Linked DNA regions of Homo sapiens: region 1 is linked to region 2. Evidence: fine-mapped expression QTL. Tissue or cell type: whole blood. Region 2 holds a variant in brackets; the other region holds the start of a gene. All regions are shown on one strand. Distances are from middle to middle. Region 1 holds the start of CD164 (CD164 molecule). Region 2 overlaps ZBTB24 (zinc finger and BTB domain containing 24).

The links. PIP is the estimated chance that this variant, and not a neighbour inherited with it, causes the effect.
Region 1: CD164 starts here. The variant in region 2 is fine-mapped to the expression of CD164 in whole blood (INTERVAL, PIP 0.97).

The regions. Positions count from the first base shown.
Region 1 is chr6:109,380,907-109,383,819 of GRCh38, forward strand. CD164 (CD164 molecule) reads right to left here and starts at 1,561. Exons shown (of 6, transcript NM_006016.6): 1 at 1,298-1,561. The coding sequence starts at 1,472. RefSeq lists a silencer at 1,019-1,298 and enhancers at 1,454-1,963, 1,519-1,868, 1,949-2,178.
Region 2 is chr6:109,464,132-109,467,040 of GRCh38, forward strand. It overlaps ZBTB24 (zinc finger and BTB domain containing 24), which reads right to left. Exons shown (of 7, transcript NM_014797.3): 7 at 1-2,443. The coding sequence ends at 1,720. It also overlaps a transcript of MICAL1 not described here. Among named protein-coding and RNA genes, the nearest start is that of MICAL1, 9.8 kb to the left of the region's middle. The variant C/T (reference allele first, on the strand shown) is at 1,098.

The DNA.
Region 1 (2,913 bases), 83 kb before region 2:
ACTGCAATTTACTTCCCTCGTTTTGAAATGTTACCATTACATCTTCCTTAAACTAAAAACAAAACATTAAGTTTACTATATACTTTATTAAACTTTTATAAAATACTAAAACTAGAGGAGAATTTGTAGAATATGAATGCCGTGATAAAAATCATTACACTTCGGCATTCTTCGGTCAAGAAGCCAATGTTAACTACGTAAACATTACTCCTTAACTAATGTTAACTAGAATAACCAATCATACGAGACTGCAGGTTTTAAACCTCTAGTGTTTCTCCCGCTTATTACCTCAAACTTATCTTCCTTCTCTCTTTTGTGTTGTCACGGTATATGGCAATTTCTGCTTTAAAATGTATGTATGCCTTAACCAGCCCTATGCGACTGCACATAACAAAAGACACGCTCCTGATCGGGTTTTAGAAAACCCACAGACCTGGGCACAAACCCCCGTTCCACGACCTACTAAACATACGCTATCTGAGCACAGGACATAGTTAAGAAAATTTTAAAAACAATTGAAAAAAGAATAAACATACAATGTCAGGAGAGTTTACTCATCTCCGTCTCTGCATCTACCTCCTAGGTTTCACTACCTACCTTCCAGTTTAGCCTTAGGATACGTACGCAAAACACCCGGTACATACATGGGTACTTTTCTTCCTTTTCGCATACTTTGAAGTGTGAAGTTTTCACTAACTACGTGCTCAAACGTCAGCTACATTCTATTCCTATCTGCAAAACCAATGTAATTAAATCTCAAGCGACCTTCTCAGACTCAAGTCTGAGACACGAACGAGCATTACCGTCTTTAAGTTTCTCTTTCCCGGACTTCCGGAGAAGGCTACCTCCGGAGAGAGGCGCCGGGAGGGTGAACAACCAGTGGCAGGGAGAGGCAGCTCGGCCCCACCGCCAACCTCAGAGGCGCGACGCCCGGCCCCATCCTCAACCCCACCGCTGCCCCCGCGGAAGGAAGCCACGTCCCCATTTCCGACCCCAAGTGAGGCTAGGAATTACGATGCACTTTTAAAAGGCACCTCGACTTGCAACACTTCGAGGGGGGCCCCAGCCCCGCAGCCACTGGGAACCGCGCGTCCGCTTCCCCCCAGCGCGCTCCCCACCCGGCCCGGCCACGAGTGGACTCCAGGCTGGCCGCCATGTTGCCGGAGTCGCCGCCGCACCCCGAGCGCGGCCCGCCCGCCCGACCGTGGCCCGAACCCGGGCCCCGCCCGCACGGCGAGGAGGCAGTGCGGCTCGGCTGGGCAGGGGAGGGCGGGAAGCCCACAGGGCCCGCGCCCACCTGGTGCCGGAGTGGTGACCAGCGGGAGGGACGTCACCGGCGCCGAGGTTACGTTGGAGATGGGCGCTAAAGTCGTCACGTTCGGGTGCTGGGTCGTGTTCTTGTCCGCGGACAGCACGCAGAGCACGCCCAGGCAGGTGGCGGCCCAAAGCAGTGAGCGGGAGAGCCGCGACATCGTGTCCTCAGCGCTGGCGTTCGGGAGAAAGCTAAGGCTCGCAACGCTCAGTCAACCCCTCAATCCCCTGCGGCGCCGCCTCCGAGACTACGCTCCCCCGCGGGAGCGCGCAGGGGTCACGTGAGAGGCCCCTGTTTTCGGCGTGCGGGGGCGAAGAGGAGGGAGGTGGGGCTCGGACGATACCAACGGGAATCCTACGGGGGGAAGCAGGGGAGTCGGGAGGAAGCCGAAGGAACCTGGCCCTCAAAGCGACTGTGCCACAGCCAAGAAAACTGGGAGCTTCTGCAAATCGTTCTTCTTGCCCTCAGATTACCAGACACGACGCAGCTGGACTTGTCTCATGCCTGCGATAGGGACGGCCCCCACCCTGACTTGCATGGAACAGTCGACATAATGTGGCCTACTGCTTCCACCTGAGCGCCCCGCCAGGCTGTAATTCCGCGGGCCCACGTGACCTCCGGGGCCGCGCCTTCCGGACGCAACTCCACTGGGGCGGAAGTTGGTTTTGTGCGGCTCTCAAGAACTAAGTTTGTGCTGTGCTGCGGGATCCCCAGGGAGCTTCCTTATATCTTCGGCAGGACCCCTTCTTTTTTTCTTGAAGATTGATTTTGCTAGAAGTTATCCTGTGATGGGACTCCCTAGGGGAATGGAGGCACCACGTGGTTAAGGAGTTTGTGCGTTGCCGCCCACATAGTGTGGGCAGCTGAGGCGCCGCCCGGATCAGAGCCGCAGGGCGTCTACTCTGTCACTTTCCCAACCTGACTTTTCCGGATTGCTATTTCAGACGGCGGTTGCAGCAGCCGACCTGTCTCAACTCCACCACTGTAGTCAGAGAATCAAAAGCGGTCTGAGTTGCGAGGTCATTGGGGAGGCCCCCACCCCCACATTACCAGTGAGGAAACTGAGACTTAAAAAAGTGACCTGACCTGGACACGGGATTGCCTGACATCAGAGCTGGATTCTTAAGTTCCTGTTAGTGTTAAGGCGCTGCTCAGACTTTTAGTAAAGGTGAGCGCCATCTACTGCCAAGTCTCACAAAATATTCGCAAAATTTGATACGGTTATCACATGGTAAAAATTAGACTTTAAAAGTTGTATTTAATGCTGTGTTTTCAGCTGTTGTACACTTATGTAATTTTAATTATGCAAAGTTATCCTAATAATATAGGAATATTAATTGCTTTCGTGAGGTCTGTCTTGATGTGCCACGATGACTTTTTTGATGTGCCAAAAAAGATGACTACATAGTGCTTTTACCTTTTTGCTCAAATAGAAAGATTTTATTTCCCCTTGGGATCTTTTCAGTGTCGTCCTTCTGTACCCTCAGGACTATGAACATTTGTTCCAATGACTACGCTAGTTGGAGTAGTGTTGCTTGGATGTAAACAAAAAGCTGATAGTTTTGACTGATCCAGCCCAGAAGCATGAGAATGCTGTCAGG
Region 2 (2,909 bases):
ACTTAGGGCTTAACAGTGTTTGTAAAAAATTGTTATCTTTGCTCTAGTCAGGCCTGATTTAACATTAGTTTGGTTGATACATATAAGATATATATCATTTTGGAAGTTTTGTGAATTACATATAATAAAATATAGCTTAGCAAATATGCAACCAAAATGTTTTTATCTTCTCTCAAACCTGAAGAATTCTCTATTACTCTAACCTCCAAATAACTTATTTGATTTAGGGAGAAATCAAGGATGTCTAAAACAAAACAATTGATGGAAAGGCTCTATTAATTTTAGAGTAGATTACCCCCTACTCCCCATCAGCATTGTTAATTTAGATATACTAGTGCCCACCTTCTTTTCTCAAAAATCCCCTACCAGCTTACATGAAAGTGGTAAAAGAATTCAATAAGCTTAGCTTGAAAACCTAACCCAAACATAATTTAATCTTTTGATGATGATTTAAAAATCATACAATTACAGACACATGCTGGCTACAAAGTCTCTGAGGCTCAAAGTTTTAAGATTAGATGAAGATTAGCTGGGTGTGGTGGTACATCCCTGTAGTCCCAGCTACTAGGGAGGCTAAGGTGGGAGGGTTGCTTGAGCCCAGGAATTCGAGGTTACAGTGAGCAATGATTGTGCCACTACACTCTGGCCTGGGTGATACAGTGAGACCCTGTCTCTAAAAAAGGAAAGATTAGGAGAAGATATTCACTTTGTGGGATTTAACTAGTCTGCAATAAAAATGAATTATAAGCTTCCATCTCCAGAAAGTTATCAGACACAACACGTAGATCAACATTTTCAGGAGATCAGTTAGAATTCAGTAGAGTATATATAAGACTTAAATTACACTGAATAAAGTTTTATGTTCCAGAATAGTGAAGAAAGCTTTACCTTCATGAAAATCAAATCTCTTTTCTGACAAAAATTCAGAATTTAGGGTGAATGTCTTGATCCAATTTTGTATTTTAAACTTAATTAAAATTTTGATAGCCTTCTGTTGAAAAATATGTAAATTTATGTTTCTCAGAAAAGACGAATTCAGAATTTTAAGAAATCCTATGCTTTTGGCTATCTTGTTACATGAATTTTGAGTTAAAATA[C/T]TGAGTTTATGAGTTTGAATCTTTCTGAAGTGTTAACACAATAAGCCCACTGTACTGCATAAAGATAAAACGTTGAGGGTTACTTTGTCTTAGGGGACTGGAAATTATTAAAAGGGCAAATTCCCCATACATTGTGATCTGTCATATTTAGCCCTGACTTGTCTTGTGGTAACAACTGTGTTGCCTAAGAAAAATAAGAAAATAGAACAAACCATTCTGCCCAGTTCAACCAAAATGACTCCCTTTGTCCTAGAAAACAAAAAAACATAACTGGGGAGGTTGGCAAGACCATAACCTATGGCTGTGAACATTTAAACCTTACAGAAAAACTGAGATCAATGCCCCCAAAGAAAAACTACCCGAGTCTTTATGAGACATTGCAGATTAAAATGAAAACCATTCAATAATATTGAAATGCTCAATACAAATCAGTACCTTAGACAAGACATACACACATCTTGCTACCTGGATGGAGGGCATTATAAACATCAGTTAGCCATCACAGCTCTCACAGAAGCATCTGCAAGTCAATGGTGTGGAGAGCCTGATTTCAAGCGTTCAAAATCCAGTCAGAGCTGGCTTATAAGAAGAGCCCAATCAAGCAGTCAAACGTGTTTACAGGTCAGCTCTGCTCCTGGCCAAGTGGCGTTGGCTGGGGCACGTGGTGAGTGGGTGGTGGCGGACCAGGCTCCTGTGTCAGCTGCAGGTGCTGAGCTGGATCTGAAGTACTTGTAGCTAAATGGAGCTCCTCTGTTTGCTCTTGATGGGCATGAAGATGTTCCAGTGTTTCCTTGGACAGAGTGATCACGTGCACTGGCTCTGTTTGTGAGGGCCCCATCTGGCTTTCAATCATATTGAGGCTCTGAATGTGTTCTGTTTGCTCCTGTTGAGCTGAAAGAATTAAATTCTGCAGTTGCTCTGGCTGCTGCGTGAGCAGGGTAAGATTAGCAGCCTGGTCTGCAGTCATGTTTTGGGAACTCTCTGCAGTCACAATGCTGATTCCCTGGCTAGGACCGGGCATGAAATTGATGTTATGTACAGAATCGGTTACGAGAAGCTGAATTTCCTGCTCTCCCGAGGTAGAGAGTTGATATGGCTGTAGCTGAAGAATATTCCTGACCTCTTCTGTATTACTACTGCCAGAAATGCTGCTGGCATCTGAAGCATGCTTCTCCTTGCTATGAATTTTCAAGTGAGCCTTCAAGTTGTCTAAGCGAGCAAACTGTAAGTTACACTCAGGGCAGGAGAAAGGCTTCTTGCCAGTGTGTAGAATGCAGTGTCTCCTTTTGGCACTGGAGTCAGAGAAGGATTTGCCACAAATGCCACAGGAGTATGGCTTTTCTCCTCTGTAAGAAAATAAACATTTTATTTTTAAAATGGAAATACCTACTTACTACTTCCTGATTATTTAGGGGGAAGCAATCAAGAGTAGTGGAAAATTAACTAGACTGCAAGTCATAAGTCATGGGTTCACCTACTAATTCAAGGACTTGAAGCAAGTCTCGCTTCCATGGGCAGTTTTTAATCTGAAAATAGGGTGTGGGTGGTGCCTGAGGAAGGGTGGCAGATGGGGCACGGCTATATATGATAAAATTTTATGATTCCACAGTATGTATTTCAGATAAGAAAAGAGAGTAAATATTTATACAATAAACATATAGTTCTCTTTTGTTTTGTCTTAGTTTTCAGAGCCAATTTTTAGACTCTAATGGCCCAATAAGTATCTATGATTAATGTCAATTTAAAAAATTTAAGCATCCTCTAATTATTTGTGATGCTGTCAGAAGAACTCCTAAGTCCAACCTGGGGATA